Linked DNA regions of Homo sapiens: region 2 is linked to region 1. A link means that fine-mapping ties the variant in region 1 to the expression of a gene that starts in the linked region. Tissue or cell type: blood mononuclear cells. Region 1 holds a variant in brackets; the other region holds the start of a gene. All regions are shown on one strand. Distances are between the middles of the regions.

The links. PIP is the estimated chance that this variant, and not a neighbour inherited with it, causes the effect.
Region 2: WDR82 starts here. The variant in region 1 is fine-mapped to the expression of WDR82 in blood mononuclear cells (TOPMed, PIP 0.97).

Annotation. Positions count from the first base shown.
Region 1 is chr3:52,302,808-52,310,983 of GRCh38, forward strand. It overlaps a transcript of DNAH1 not described here. Among named protein-coding and RNA genes, the nearest start is that of DNAH1, 9.4 kb to the right of the region's middle. RefSeq lists an enhancer at 7,812-8,176. The variant GGGGCTGGATA/G (reference allele first, on the strand shown) is at 3,813.
Region 2 is chr3:52,274,269-52,282,444 of GRCh38, forward strand. WDR82 (WD repeat domain 82) reads right to left here and starts at 4,381. Exons shown (of 9, transcript NM_025222.4): 1 at 3,933-4,381. The coding sequence starts at 4,093. It overlaps LOC107986086 (a long non-coding RNA gene), which reads right to left. Exons shown (of 3, transcript XR_001740699.2): 3 at 8,050-8,176. RefSeq lists enhancers at 3,108-3,740, 3,244-3,293, 3,314-3,393, 3,804-3,903, 4,373-5,004 and silencers at 4,094-4,173, 4,354-4,643.

The sequences.
Region 1 (8,176 bases):
AGGGGACACCAGTGCCCATCCCCCTGAAGAGATTTCAGCCAATTAGCACGTACAGTATTTACTTAATTAGGGTAATGACATAATTAGTGTAACTCGGGCTCCATCACATGGCTTCAACATGCAATTAGGAGCTGTCAGCGGGAGGCGACATTGTGAGAGCGCTCATTCAATTTTGGTTCCAGCATGGAGGCCTAGCAGCTGCCTCTGCTTGGAGGGAGGGAGATGGGTGGATGGTGGCGGCTGCTGTGTGTGTGAGGTGACTGCAGGCAGCCCATAGCCTAGGAGAGAAGAGTAAGTGGGGACAGAAAGGCAGTTTCCTGGGCTAATGGAGTCCCTGACTGAGCCTACTCACATCCTCAACAGACATTGCCACCCTTGACCCCAGCCCCAGGGCAAGGCAGAGGCGGTGGCTTGGCTGGAGTGTCTGCGATTAGGGGGCTGAGCACTGCAGGCTCCTCTGCCCCCAAGTTCTCTGCCTGAAATGCCACCATTAGCAGGCTGTCTTGTCTCTCTTTAGGGCTTTGCTGTTCATAAGAGCCACCATCTGATACCCACTGGCCAGTAGGCTATTCTTCGTGGCCCCAGGAGGCCACAGACTGGCAGGACTGGGATGATCCCTGTTATCCTCATTGGATTCATGGGGAAAGTGGGGCTTAGGTCAAGGAAGGTGGTAGAGCCAGTCATGGCAGTGCCAACCCCAAGAGGGAGCCTGTTATGGCTGGAGACTCCCCAAGCCTGGGCATATTCCCCCTCACCCCCAAGGAGGTCTCCTGCCCAATGGCCTCTTTCCCTTGGAAGGAGTGGGGCTGCCTTTGGAGTTACTGAGGTGGTCCCCAGGCTCCTGGCTCCCTCAGCCTTTCCTCCACCTTATACAGGGCTAGGAGGCAGAGCCCTGACTCTGTCCACAGCCTTCCCCTCGGTGAACCTCAGCGAACCTCACAGCTTTCTTGAGTGGGGGCCATTGTGGGGAGGAAGGGAAGAAAGGAAGATGGGAGTCAGTGCCACCATTGTGCGGGTAGGGAAACTGAGGCTCCAGGGCCTTCAAGGAGGTGCTGTTAGAACCGATATCAGCCCCTAGCAACCCTACTTCTGGCCCAGCAGGATGACCTGGGCTGAACTTCTCCCTTGGGTCTGTTTCCTCTTGTCAAAGGAGAGAGTTTACACTGCATGATCTCAGACATCCTGGGCCTATCCAGAGCCCCCTGGGAGGTGGGACCCAAGGAACTTGCCATCCCTCTTCCCTCCTTCCAGATTATGTCCTCAGAGCTGTCCCTTCCCTTTGTGACCTGCCCCTTTCTGGGTTAGCCCCATTGCATAAATGAAACAGATGAAGGTCCCTGGCTGCAGAGAAGGGAATCCATTTCCTAGGCCCTGTGATCTCACTTGATCCCTGTGCTCAGCCTGCAGTGCTGGAACCACAGCCTTCTTAGAGGCTAGACTGGTGTTTAAAACCCCTCAACTCCCTGCTTCCACCTCAATAGCAATTCAGGTGAAGTCACCAATGCTAGGTTTACAACGCACTTCATGCTTCCATCTCATGGGCGTCACCTACATCCTGCTAAATGACAACAATGTCTCTGCCTCTTAGGTGGATAAACCAAGGCAGCAAGACCCAGTAAAGGACAGCACCAAGTCCCAAACCCCGGCTTTGGTCCTTGCAGGTTAGTGACTCCCCTCACACTGAGCGTCCTCAAGTCTGTCCTGCCCTGACCGCATGGCTCTAGATCTAGGATCCAGGGTGGGAGGGGCTCTGATGAGACCAGGGTTCAGCCAGCTGGGAATACTGCTGGTAAGATCGGGTACCACTGAGTGGGAAGGTCTGGGATGACACCCAGAGTCCAGGCCTTCTAGATGGGAGACAGAGATTCTCCAGTTCAGAAGGGCAGAGGGTCTAGCCTGGACAAAGGGAATTGCCAGTCAGAACTGTCTCCAGGGGCCTAGCCCCTCAGGCAGGGCACAGGTGGGGTGGGCGCACAGATGGCTGGTGGGCAGCTCTGGTTACAGGCAATAGTCACAACAAGACTAAAATCCCCTTATTTCTATGAACGCTGGGGCATAAGCTGTGAGATGGCACAGTGAAGATCCACTGGCAGAGGCCAGTGCTGCCAGGAGGAGAGAGGAGCCCACTCTCACCTCTCAGAGGAGGTGGGGGCTGTGGCCAGAGGGCCAGAAGGTCCTGAGCACCAAGCCATCTGGCCTGGTGCCCCTGGACTTTTCAGCCTCAGGAAAGAGGCCCTTTCAAGCCAAGGAGGTGAGGACTAGCACAGGAGGGGAGCCTGAGGCCAAGGAAGAAATGGCATAGCCATAGTCATAGGGGAATGCTGGCTGGTGGGAGGATCCTGAATTGTCTGTGTTAGGACTGGTCCTCCTGGGGCTGGGTAGAGCTGGAGGCAGCCTCTCTTCACTTGGGCTAGCTGCCTAGGCTCATACTCAGACCTGGCCACATCCTCAGCCCTGAGATGGGACCTACAGCTGGGGGACCTCATGTACCTACCCACCCTCCTTCCTTCATCAAATGTTTGCTATGTGCTGACTCTAGGCCAGCCACCTTGGGATTGGCTACTGGGGCAGGAATGGGGAGCAATGAGCAGGCAGAGATGAAGGCCAGCACCTCCAGAGGCTCATGTCCTTAGAGTCCAGACAGACACAGGCCCAAGGAGTTCTCTCCAAAGAGTAGGCAGAGATAAATCTCAGGAAGAGCCAAGGCCAAGGGCCAAGTCAAGCTCACTAGTTCAAACAGGTGGTGGTCCCCACCCACTCCCTCACTGGTCAGAAGTCTGGGGGCAGGCCAGATTTCCGTTGGCAAATGATAGGAAAAGGGCATTCCAGGTGGTTGGACCGTGTGAGCAGAGGCTGGGGGCCAGGACGTAGGATTCAAGAATACTATGCTCTGGCCTGAGGTATTTGGGTGGGCTCTGGGCAGCTCAAGGAAGGGGCTGGGGACTCTAATCACTTGTGAAAAAGTCAAGGCATTCCTCTAACACCCATTTAGCAAAAAGTTCCTACAGTGTGCCAGGCATGTGGTTTATAGGTTGGGGATTCAGTAGGGATCAAAACAGATGACGTTCAAGGGAGACAGAGACACAGCATTTTCAGATGCTAACAGGTACCACGGAGAAGATTCTAACATGGTGATCTAGGAGGCGATCTAACAGGGCTAGGGCCTAGGAGGAGACTTTAGGGCGTGGGGCCAGAGAAGGCTGCAATGATGTTTAAGCCAAGATCTGAGTGATCCAAAGGTCAGGGGGAAGAGCATTCCAGGCAGAAGGAGTAGGCAGTGTAGAGGCCCTGAGGCCTGTGAGGTCCTGAAGGGCAGCCCACGTCAATGGGGCAAGGAGAAGGGAAAGGAGGTGGATGGGACCAGCGAGGCAGGTGGGGCTCTGTCGGTTGGGCTAAGGCCTGTGGACTTTATTCTAAGTGCCATGGGAAGTCATTGGATTTTGAACTAGGGAGTGGTTTTTTCCCTTAAATCACTGTGACAGCCTCATGGAGACCAGATTGTGGAGGCTCCATGAAGACCAAGGGAGACACTGTCGAGATGAGAGAGGATGGTGGCCAGGATTGGGTGCTTGCTGGGAGGTGGTGGGAAGCTGGCATTTGGGGATGTTATTTGGAGGCAGAGCCAACAGGACTTCAGGAAGGGTTGGCTGTAGGGTGTGAGAGAGGGTTGTCCAGGGCAGTTCTTCAGTTTCTGGCTTAAGCACATGAGCAAATGGCATGGCCATTTTCAGAAGAGGGGGATGCTGGGAAAAGCAGACCAGGGAGAGGGAAATCAAGGGTTCTGGGTTGTCTGTGTTAGGACTGGGACTCCT[GGGGCTGGATA/G]GGGCTGGAGGTGCCAAGGGAAACAGTTGTCAGATATAAGCCTAGAGTTCCAGAGAGGGGGTTGCCCCAGAGATTGATCCATCTTTAGCATAGAGATGTATTTTGCTTACACAAGGGACAGGGTACCCCTCCAGCCCCAGGAACCCAGAGATTCAAATGAGCCATTGATCTGGAGCCATTGATCAATGAGCCATTGATCTGGAGGCCCCAGCAGGGTCAAGGCCAGCAGGGGCCAGCAGGGAAGGACCCTGCTCTTGAAGCCTCCCCCATATCTGTCTAGTGAACCAAGACCACCTCACCCCACCCCAAAGCTAGAGAAGTTGATGATGTAAACTTGGCTTTCAGGAGCCAAGGCCCAACTGGGGGTGGAAGGTGCTGCCGTAGGGACCCTGGAGGCCAGCTGTCTAAGTGATCCTCTGCTTATCCTAGCCTGGCCTGGCCTGGTGTGAAAGAGTCTAGACTCCACCCTGACAGGACCCCGTCATGGCTTAAAGTGCTCCTTCAAAGGGCCTGAGAGCCATTCACGTCCATTGCCACCAGTTAGCTGTGTGTCCTCAGGCAAGCCCTTCATCTCTCTGTGCCTTCCCATTATAGGCAGTTGGAAGAGTAACTCTCTGAGCCCATGTCCTCCCCTGTCAGAGGTCTGTGAATGCAAAAGCTAGCCAGGTCATGCCTGTTACACCCCCAACTGAGCAAAGTGTGGCTTCAGCCCCAGCTCAGACGGGGCAGTGGGAATGATGGGAGGCTGGAGCTGGGTGGGCTGCTGTTCTTGCAGCGTGGCCCGTGGCCCCTGCCTCACCCATCCTCCTGTGATTCTCAGCTCTTTGGGGCCCGCCCCAGGCAGACAGGCATCACCTCCTGAGTGTCTCTTCTTCAGGGAGAGGAGGTGGTTGCCACCGCCACCGCCAAAGCCATCCTCCGGGTCCTGTGCTCCTCCATGCCAAGCACATTAGGGGATAATTAAGTAAAAATAGGCATTCCGACCAGTGTAGCTCATTAAGGCCTAATTAAGTTAATTAGTTCCAGGTGTGGATGGCGAGGCTCAAGTGAGGCGGCGGCTGTTGTTTGCTGTAATTGCATTTTCGCAGCAGCAGTGATGGTGACAGTAATGGTGTGGCAGAGACAGCGGCTTTCTCTGAGGCCTGGAAGCCCGCCAGGAAGTTCAGGAGGCTGTCGCTGAGCTGGGAGGGGTACGAGGAAGCCAGGGGCCACACAGAGAGAGTGGTGACTGGAGGTTCAAGGTCTCCCAGGCCCAGGGAGGCCCTGCTCCGTCTCTGTGTGGGGGAGGTTTTGTGTATATGTGTGTGTGTGTGTGTGTGTGTGTGTGTGTGTGTGCACAAAGCCACAAAGAGGCATCTTCCCCTCTGGTTGAGTAGGGGAGGTGCACTGTGGCTGGTCTTTTGGCCTTGGGCTCAGTTCCCTCACACCCCATCACAGTCCCCAGGAAAGACTTTAAAGTGACTTTGCTAAAAGGGAATCTGTGGGCCAGAGGGAGTGGGAAAGACCTCTAGGAATCTGCCTCACTCACTCTATTTGGCTTGAATCCCCCATTCCTGTCCCTTCTGGCAGGTGCATGGATCTTAAGCTGTCGCCTCTTTGTGATTCAGGGCAGGAGTGGGGGCTACGCAAGTCCAGGCCTCCACAGAGGACCTGTTGGCTCAGTTAGTCTCCTGACCCAAACGTCTCCCTCAGTCCACTTTCTGTCATGGCTTCTGGACTCAGCTGTCCTTGGGGACCTGCCTGTGTGGGACAGCCCTCTCAGCCTCAGTCACACTCACATTCATACATTCATGCTTGCATGCATTCAGCTGTTGCTCACTGAACATCTCCTCTGTGCCAGGCAGCAGGACCAGGGGATGGGAATATAGGCTGGGCAAGACAGGTTGGACTCTGTCCCATGGCACCTTTGGTCTCTCCAAGGAGGCAGACATGTTAATGACTCTGGCCACACAATTTTGCCATGGCTGTGGGCACCTAGGGGTGTTTAACCCAGTCCTGGGAGGAAAGATGTCCAATCTGCAGTGAATGTGATGCAGGAGACAGGGGGACAGGGTGTGTGTCAGGAACTGAAAGGGCTTCCCTCTGGCTGGAGGACAGCATGAGGGCACTGAGTGGGGAGAGTGGGGCCAGATCAGGGAGGACTGTGGGGCTGCTGGGTAGAAAATGAACTGGCACTGGTGACTGGGAGGCGAGGGAGGAGGTGGCCAGGGCTGCATCTGTGGATCCAGAGAGGAGTGGATAGATTTGAGGGATATTTAGGAGGAGAACCGATGGGGCTTGCTGCACTGGTTGGGTGTAAGGGATGGGGTAGGAGGAGGCTGTCAGCCTTGCAGAGAGGGGCCTTGGGAGTGGGGTTGGGCTCTGAGATGTCCCCACAGGCTGGGACTAGGATGAGACAAGGGAAGTGCCTGGGGTGAAAAATTGGGGGAATTCGCTACCAGCCTTGTGTTCCCCCTTGTGCCTCTCTCAGGTGTCCTGAAATTTCTCGCTAAGAAAGACACATCTTGGAAAGTGGAAGCCGCCCCTGGAGATGGGACAATGGGGGCATAGTTCTCAGCAGGGTGTGCCCCCTGGGCACTTCAACCCCTACCTGGGAGGTGCTGTCTTCTCTATACCTTCCAGCACTGGGCTGGGGCCAGGATTGACACCTTAGGGCTCATTTGCTCCTGATAGGTACTCTCTTTCCATTCAGGTGTCCAAATGACAGGAAAGGTGCCCATTCAGCTTCCCCTGTCATGCCTCCCATGACAGGGAGCTCCTGCCATCTGGGCAGCCCAGTCCTTTGGTTGGGACCATTATAAAAATATTGTATCATGAGCCCAAATCTGTCTTCTTCCAACAGTTGACTCAGCCCTGCCTCCTACCCTCCCCTACTACCCAGGCCAAGTCTGCCAATCCCCTTTCCCCGACCAGCTTCACCTCTCAGAGTCTCAGTGTCCCCACCTGCAAAAAGGGAAACAGTAATAGCTACCCCCTTCTAGGATTGGTGTGAGGATTAAATGACATGTGTATAAACCTCATGGCATATGCTAACTTTTCTATTTTATTTTTCAGAGACAGGGTCTAACTGTGTTGCCCAGGCTGGAGTGCAGTGGCATGATCATGGTTCCCTGCAGCCTTGACCTCCTGGGCTCAAGCGATCCTCCCACCTTAGCCTCCCAAATAGCTGGGACTACAGGCATACGCATGTCACCATGCCCAGCTAATTTTAAAAAATTTTTTGTAGAGATGGGGGTCTTGCCATGTTGCCTAGGCTGGCCTCAAACTCCTGGGCTCAAACAGTCTTCCTACCTTGCCTCAAACTCCTGGACTCAACAGTCCTCCTACCTTGGCTTCCCAAAGTGCTGGGATTACAGGTATGAGCCATCACACCTGGCCACATGCTAATTGCTTAGTAACTGGTTCCTAACCCATAGTAAGGATGAATAGCTGCAGAGGTGGACGCTGTGCTCCTTCTGGCTTGGGCTGCCCAGTCATACAGTCTTGTACCACTGGTACATCAATGGTACCCATCTGTTGGCCCCAGGTAGCTGACCCTGCCACCACCCCACTCACATCCGGTGTAGATGGAGAGCTAATCGCAGAGAAGAATGTCCATGGGGAAGAAGTGACATTTTCTTGGGATGGCAAAGCCACAATGACGTGCAGGGTCTGCCCGGCTGGTTATTGAATCAGTTCTCTGCTCAGCCCCAGCCCCTCCCCTCTGGTCCCCCTGCTCCTCAAGTCTCTCATTCAGGGGTACGAGTGGACCTGCCATGCCTGTGAAATGGCCCTGGTGGTGGGAGTCCCTCCTGAGCCTGAGGGCCCCGCTGAGCCCCAGATCCCTTGGAGGGTAGCAGACCCTTTAGAAACGCATCATTGTCTGGGGTGCCCATACTTTTCCCACAAGGCTGCAGGGTGTTGAGGCTGGGGCGAGGGGCTTGCAGGAACCCCTGGCTTCCCTCAAAGATCAGAAGAACCACCCAAGAAAGGACAAAGCCATCCCACTGCCTTTTCCCATGCGTTCCCATCCCAGAGCCTCTGTCTGCAGCAACAAAACTGGCTTCTGCAGTGCTCTCTGCTTCTTCTGTTTCTCTGTTGAAAACCAGCGCTTGTGTCAAGGAGGAATTCTTTAGATTTAAAGGACAGTGGTGACCATCCTCCCCGAGCCCTGGTCACCGGGGACCACCAGGTTCCTGTTGGAGGACAGAGGGCACCACAGGGGAAGGCAACAACAGGGGCAAAGGAATGCCCAGAGCATGGGCAGGGCAGCCATTCAGGCAATGCCGTGTCATGTGGGTGGGCAGGGGCGATGGGTGGGAACAGGGTGGGTGGTGTTTGTGGGATTGACAATGAGCTGGTGTTGTGCAGGGCA
Region 2 (8,176 bases), 29 kb before region 1:
AAAGATACTATGCCTTCGGCCGGTCACAGTAGCTAACACCTGTAATCCCAGCACTTTGGGAGGCCTAGGTGAGAGGATCGCTTGAGTTCAGGAGTTTGAGACCAGCCTGGGCAACCTGGTGAGAACTTGTCTCCACTAAAAATAAAAATAGCCAAGTAAGTTGGCGAGTGCTTGTAGGCCCAACTACTTTGGAGATTGAGGTGGGAAGATCACTTGAGCCCAGAAGATGAAGGCTTTAGTGAACTATAAGCATGCTATTGCACTCCAGCCTGAGCAACAGGGGAAGACCTTTGTCTTAACAACAAACAAACAAAAAAACAAAACAAAACAAAACAAAAAAACAGGGCCGGGTGCGGAGGCTCACATATGTAATCCCAGCACTCTGGGAGGCCGAGGAGACCGAGGTGGGCAGATCACTTGAGGTAAGATGTTGAGACCAACATGGCCAACATTGTGAAACCCCATTTCTACTAAAAATACAAAAATTAGCAGGCACACTGATGGGTGCCTGTAATCCCAGCTACTCGGGAGGCTGAGGCACGAGAATCGCTTGAATCCAGCAGCGAGGTTGCAGCAGTGAGCCAAGATTACGCCACTGCACTCCAGCCTAGGAAAGAGTGAGGCAGTCTCAAAAACAAAACAAAACAAAACAAACAAACAAACAAAAAGAAAGGCCGGGCGCAGTGGCTCATGCCTGCAATCCCAGCACTTTGGGAGGCCGAGGCGGCGGATCACCTGAGGTCGGGAATTCGAGACCAGCCTGACCAACATGGAGAAATCCCGCATCTACTAAAAATACAAAATTAGCCAGGTGTGGTGGCGCATGCCTGTAATCCCAGCTACTCAGGAGGCTGAGGCAGGAGAATCGCTTGAACTCGGGAGGCGGAGGTTGCAGTGAGCCGAGATGGAGCCACTGCACTCCAGCCTGGGCAACAAGAGCGAAAGTCCCTATCAAAAAAATAAATAAATAAAAGATACAATACCATGCCTTCCCAAGGAAATACTTCTTTTCTTCTGAGGTCGGTTTGACCTATACTAGTGACAAAATTTTTCATCATATTATTGCCTAGAATGGAAACTAAAGAGGTTGTCTAATACCCAAAGAAGTAATCTGACCAATGTCACATACCTAGTCACAGGCCAAACTAGTACCCAGTTCCCTCCTAACTACCAGGCCACTCCTTCACCACAGATAATGAAACAAGGTTACAATTAATTGATCAGAGAAAACTCAAGAGCATGCCCTGTAGTATTGTATCAGTACTAAATTTCCTAATTTGGATAACTGTGCTCTGGTTACATAAGAATGTCTTTGTGCTTAGAAAATCCACGTTGAGCCGGGCGCAGTGGCTCATGCCTGGAATCCCAGCACTTTGGGAGGCTGAGGCGGGTAGATCACGAGATCAGGAGTTCAAGACCAGCCTGACCAACATGGTGAAACCCTGCCTCTACTAAAGATACAAAAATTAGCCAGGCATGGTGGCATGCACCTGTAATCCCAGCTACTCAGGAGGCTGAGGCAGGAGAATCGCTTGAACCCAGGAGCCGGAGGTTGCAGTGAGCCAAGATCACGCCACTGCACTCCAGCCTGGGCGACTGAGCGAGACTCCATCTCAAAAAAGAAAGAAAATCCATGTTGAAGTGTTTAGGGATAAAGGGGCTTGATACCTCCAACTCTAAAGGTGGGGGGAGGCACACAGTACATATAAATATTTACCTACAGTCATGAAGCAAATGCAGAAAATGTAACCAGTTATTGAATCATATGGGAGTTCTTTGAAACACTGTAACTTTGTTAGTTTCTAATTATGTAAAAATGCTACGAGTAAATAAACTGCCTTATGTCACAAAACTAGCATTTTACTTTTAACAAGACAGGATTTGGCCAGGCACAGCAGCTCATGCCTATAATCCTAGCACTTTGGAAGGCCAAGGCGGGTGGATCACTTGAGGTCAGGAGTTCAAGACCAGTCTGGTCAACATGGTGAAACCCCATCTCTACTAAAAATACAAAAGTTAGGGTATGGTGGCAGGCGCCTGTAATCCCAGCTATTTGTGAGGGTGAGGCAGGAGAATCGCTTGAACCCGGGAGGCAGAGGTTGCAGTGAGCCAAGATCGCGCCACTACACTCCAGCCTGGGCGACGGAGAGAGACTCCGTCCCCCACCCGAAAAAAAAAAACAAAAAAAAGAAAGACAGGACTTCATGTCAAGGTCATCCTTCCCAAATCAAAATTACGCCAAATTTGGGGACAAACTGCAAAGAAATGCTATAACAACCTTCATTTCCTTTAAATGAGGATATACATCTCCACCCTCAGGTTCTGGGAAGAGGTTCTAATCTGTGCATAAGCACTATACATTTCATGCAAGCCAGCTTCAAATTACTCCTCCAGGACCCCACAATGCTGACCCTACTACCACACCTTTAAATGTTACTTCGTCTTCTAAACTGATTCAAGTGACCAGACCAGGACAGAAATCCATCTACTCAATGAGTAACACTGACTCAAATAACTATTTGTCCAGCTAACAATTCCCTCTTCCTTAAGACCACCACTGCAGACCACTCTGCCACAAACTGCAGGCAGATCCAGAGCCGGTTACATAATACTTTCTCACAGCCCCAGTGGGGAAAAAAACTGGGGGGATACCATTATAGCTCAGTCCAAACTAGCATTACTTCAGATAATCAAATTCACAAATGAAGAGATATGTTCCAAAAGAAGGACACCAGTCTAAAAAAAAAAAAAGGAAAAAGGAACAGCTGGAGAAGGTGGAGAAAAACCCAAGATCTCAAATAATAATAATAATAATAATAATAATAATAATAATATCTGTTACTAGGTGACAAAATCAAGTCTGAAAAAACCAGGGTCCACCGAATTAAACCAAACATCAGCAAGCCTTCTTGGGGAAGGTGGCTAAGGGTAAAACGAATTTAATCTAAACTAGTTTTTGGCTCCAAGGAGCTGCAAGTCCACAGGCGTGCGGTGAGGAGGGCTGACAAGGACCCCCAGGGAAAAAGGCAAAGTGCTGTGCTTAGATTTTGCGAAAAGATGCAGGTATGGTGGGTCTCCAGATGACTTGTGGCAACATAAAAGTTTCATGATCAGAATTGGAATTCAAAGTGGACCAAAAAGTGTAATAGAAAAAAAAAAGTATGAAAGGAAACCTGAAATTGTTCTACGATGCTTGCTTTGTTTTAACGGAAGCTCACATTCAGGTCAGGATGGGACGACCAAGTTCGTTTGTGTGTGGCAAAAAGGAAGTTTTAGATGTTGCTGAAAAGTTCACTTATGAACGTGGGCACCAAGTCTGAATGAGTAAGAGAAAGGCTAGGAGCAGGAAGAAAAAGCAAGGGGGCTCAAAGGGGCACAACAAATAAATCCTGACAGCTAAGAAGTGCAACCCACGCGGTCTGACGGCAGAAAGGCCGCGGGAAGCTGAGGGGCAGGGGATGGGCGGAGTGCCAGGGCGGAATCGAGGTCACAGTGGAGAGAGCACAAGAGAGAGCTGACGCTGCCGAAGGAGGCAGAAAAGCAGCCCCTGCAGTCCTGCGTCGAGGCCGGAGCAGACCAGCACCTTTGACAGCCTGAGGAGCTGAAAACGCTACCTGGTGGGCCCAGGGTGGGCGGACCGGGCGTTTAAAGGTCAAGGTCAAGGTGGGGTTTGGCAAGTGATGCATAGCGCTCAAAGGAGACCGAAGACATACAAATAATATTATAAAATTATGACTATCGTTATCTTTTTTTTTTAAGAAGAAAAAAATAAAAGGTCTCCTGGACGGCTGCGGGGTGGAGGCGGCCCTGGCAGGAACGCGTGCAAAATAGGCTGGGGGCTGAAGTCGGGACGGAGGGCAGGCCGAGGGACCTGTGCTGGGCCACCGGAGGGAGGCACTGAGACTCGGGCCCAGGGCCTCCGCCGCACTCACTTGCCCTCCTGGCAGTCATAGAGCACGATGGAGTCGTCGTCGCTACTCGAGATGACCGTCTCGCCGTTGGGGCTGAAATCGAAGCAGTTAATCTTGTCCGAGTTTTCGCGGAACACCTTAGCGACGCGGAAGCTCCGCAACACGCTGTCGGTCAGCTTCATGGCGGCGGCTGGGGAAGGCAGCGGCGGCGCAGGGCCGGGGCGGGGCCCGGCGGCGAGCGGGCGGGCTGCCGAGGGGCCAACCCAGGCGGGGCGGGCGCCGCGCCGGCGGCTAGCGGGAAGTCGGCCAACAGTTGGGCCGCCTCCTCCTCTTCTTCCTGCTTGGTCGAGGGTCTTCTGCCTGGACTGTGGAGCCTCGCCGACCGTTCGTCCTCACAGCCACCTCACGGACAACCGGCGCGTCGCCGGCTCATTGTGTCCGCCATTTTGGGGCGACAGGCAGAAGCTGAGGGCGAGGAGCCTCAGCCGCGGCGCACGCCGGGAAAGGGGGCGGGGCGGGAACGGCGGAGCAAGGCGGGGAGGCGGGGTGGTGACGTCAGCGCGGCCGCGGCGGAGTGTAGTGGCGGGGCGGGCTGCTGGCAGGGAGCGGCCGAGACGTGCAGGGCCTTCCCGGGGGATCGGAAGGTTGCGGATGCCTTGGGAGCCGGGGGCCCTTGCGCGGGATTGCAACCCCCGCGAAGACTCTGGCGCCTCCTGCAGGCGTCCCGATCGCAGGCTGCGTGGGAGGGGGTACTGCAGGGTCGGGTATGCTGCTGGAGGCCGGTTTTGGGGGTGACTCAGGTGAGCCGCTCGCAGGCAAGCTTGACCGCTAGTCCACCGCAGCGTCCGCTTAGACAGCTTCGACCTCTTTACTTTTTTTTTTTTTTTTGGAGATGGAGTCTCTCGCTCAGGCGCGCGCCACCACGCCCAGCTAATTTTGTATTTTTGGTAGAGACGGGGGTTCACCATGTTGGCCAGGCTGGTCTCGAACTCCTGACCTCACCCGCACCCGGCCTCGTTTTCTTAATCGAGGTAGACTTTAGGTACAGTAAAAATCAGCCTTTTTAGGCCGGGCGCGGTGGCTCACGCCTTTAAACCCACCACTTTGGGAGGCCGAGGCGGGATGATCGCTTGAGCTCAGGAGTTGAGACCAGCCTGGCCAACATGACAAAACCCCACCTCTACTAAAATACAAAAAATTAGCCGGGCATGATGGCGCGGCTGAGGCACGAGAATTGAGAAAGGCGGAGGCTGCAGTGCGCCGAAATCGTGCCACTGCATTCCAGGCTGGGCGACAGAGCAGACGGTTTCCCCCCAAAAATTAGCCTTTTTAGTGGCTAGTTTTATGTTCTGACACCCATACACAGTCATGCAGTCACCACCACATTCAAGATTTGGAAGAGTTGCACTATCCTGTTTGTAGTCAACAGGATTATTTTAAAGGTTCTATCATATAAGTGATTATTTGCCTTAAAAGAAAGTTTATCTCTAACAAAGGAAAGCAGTATTTGAACAGAAAATAGGAACCAAGCTTCCTAACCTTAACTTTCTGGGCAAGGGGTTAAACTCAATGCCAACCTATGTGGCTTCACAGATCTGTATCTTGTGTGAAGCTCCTCAAAAGGTTAATTGCCTGGGGTTTCCAACAATGAAGATGGGGATTATTTATTTTTGCTTTCTTTAGCTAAAGAGAAACAAAAACGAGGAAAGGCTGTGAGACATTTCAGTCGCTATTAGGAAGGTTATTATCCAGAGACCTGTGCAATGGTAAAAAACAAAATGGAAACCCTGGGACAGTTGGGGTCTTTCTAGAAAGAACTAGAGGCTGTATCCCAACCCCCTGGGTAAAAGGAGAGCCAGGATCCTTATACATAAAGAGAAGTTGTTCTCTAAGGGAAGAGGCAAGTTCCTGGCTAAGTCTGGGGTATAATTGCCTCCTGACAAAGAGCAGAGCTTCTGGCTACAATTTGTTCTGGGGTCTGGAAAAAGCCGGTTTGAGTGAAACCTGAATAGATGGCAACTTTCCAAACTGCACACAATGGAAGAAAAACCCTCCACGTCCCAGATCACTTGCTCTGCTTCCCTGTAATTCCTGTGCCTTTATTTCAGAAGCTAGAAAGTCTGATACAGCGTCTGCTTCGAATAGTTTAGAAGGCAACAAGGACAGATCGAGTACCATGTTCTAGAACTGTCGGGAAGTGAACACACCCAGTAAGATGATGCCATATTTTGGTCCATGTTAATCTACAAAAATAACCACAGAAACAGCTGTAATCTACTGAATGTTGCCAGCCAAAATAAATCTTTGCAGGGTATTTTTCAAGTATTGTACTTCCTATACCTTTTCCAGATTTCACCGTTAAGACCAAACCTTCCTCCCAAGACTTGACTTTCTGCATTATTTTTGGAATGCAGTCTTTTTTTTTTTCCCCCATTTTTAAGAGGGTCTTCAAATCCTCATCCTGTTTCGCATTCTTACTGTTTCCAATTCCTAGCCTGGCTCCCTGCCCTATTATAGTGGGGCTCTCCTGGCTTCCAGCCCAACAGTATGGTTGCCTTAAAGGATGGACTTTAGGCCAGGTGCGGTGGCACTTTGGGAGGCCGAGGTGGGTAGATCACAAGGTCGGGAGTTCAAAACCAGCCTGGCCAAAATGGTGAAACCCTGTCTCTATTAAAAATACAAAAATTAGCTGGGCACAGTGGCGGGCACCTGTAATCCCAGCTACTTGGGAGGCTGAGGCAGGAGAATCGCTTGAATCCGGGAGGCAGAGGTTGTAGTGAGCCGAGATCACACCACTGCACTGGGCATTAGAGCAAGACTCCGTCTCAAAAAAAAAAAAAAAATGGACTTTAAAAAGTGACACAGAAAGCCGGCTCCAGTGGATGGGTGGATGGAGAGAAAGCTGCAGTCAAGAGTGAATCAGATGGGCTTTAAAAGAGCATCAGACTTAATTTTTTATGTTTCCTTTTATTTGTAGTCATTCTTTTACTTGTCACATATTCATTGCAAAAAAACTAAAAAATACAAATAATAAAAACAGCATCCAGAGATAGCCACTGTTACAATCTTTTATTATAGTGAAATATATATAACACGAAATTTACCATTTTGATGTAGAACCTTTCCGATTTTTTCATATACATATATATATATATATATATTTTTTTTTTTTTTTTTTTTTTTTTTTTCCTGCTCTGTCACCCAGACTGGAGTGCAGTGGCGTGCTCTCAGCTCACTGTAACCTCCATGTCCTGGGTTCAAGTGATTCTCCTGCCTCAGCCTCCTATAGATGCCCGCCACCACGCCCAGCTAATTTTGTATTTTTAGTACAGACGAGGTTTTATCATGTTGGCCTGGCTGGTCTTGAACTGCTGACCTCAGGTGATCTGCCTGCCTCACCATCCCAAAGTGCTGGGATTACAGGCATGAGCCACCACACCCAGCCAATCCCTGAAATATATTTTTATTGGGTTCATAATATATTGTTTGTAAGTTTACCCATACTATGAACATATTCCAGGTCAATAAATATCGATACAATCATTTTGAATGGCTACAAACTATTCTATTATATGGCTGTAAAGTAATTTTGCTTCCCATTTTGTCCAGAGCCCAGCCAGAGCTCAGTATGGATTAATTGAATAAATGAATTTATCCAAAGGATTCCAGATACTTGATTGGCCCACTTATTAAATTTTTCTATTTCATGCTGCACAATTGGAATGGAAACTGTCCTAAACAATGTGTCCTCTTTCCAAAACACAGAGCTCCTTATGAATTCTAATTCTTTGAGATAAATTTCTGAGCTCCAGTGCCCAGCAGCAGGGCTTCCCTAGAGATTGACTAACGTCTTACTCAACCCTTGGAATAACTAGAATCAGGTGACTCTCTTCTTTGGGACAGTTGCATGTGTGTAAGTGTGACAGTGTGTGTGTGTATCAGTGCTTACACAGCCCTCGGAATAACTAGAATCAGGTGACTCTCTTCTTTGGGACAGTTGAGTGTGTGTGTGTGTGAGCTTAATTGCCAAAGAGGAAACGCAGAACACTAGAACACAAAATGCCTGGTGAGGTGTCTGAGCCCCAGCACCAGGAAGTGGTCGCCTCACAGGTTGGCAAAAAATTTACTGACAACAGTATAGGTTTGAAAAAGGAAAATTTCTTAGAAAGAAAGAACGCTGCAGAAGAGTGCAGCGGGGCACCCCAGCGAGAGGACTGAGGGCCTTGGTGGATTTTCCTTAGGTGCATTTATGGACCTTCAGGCAG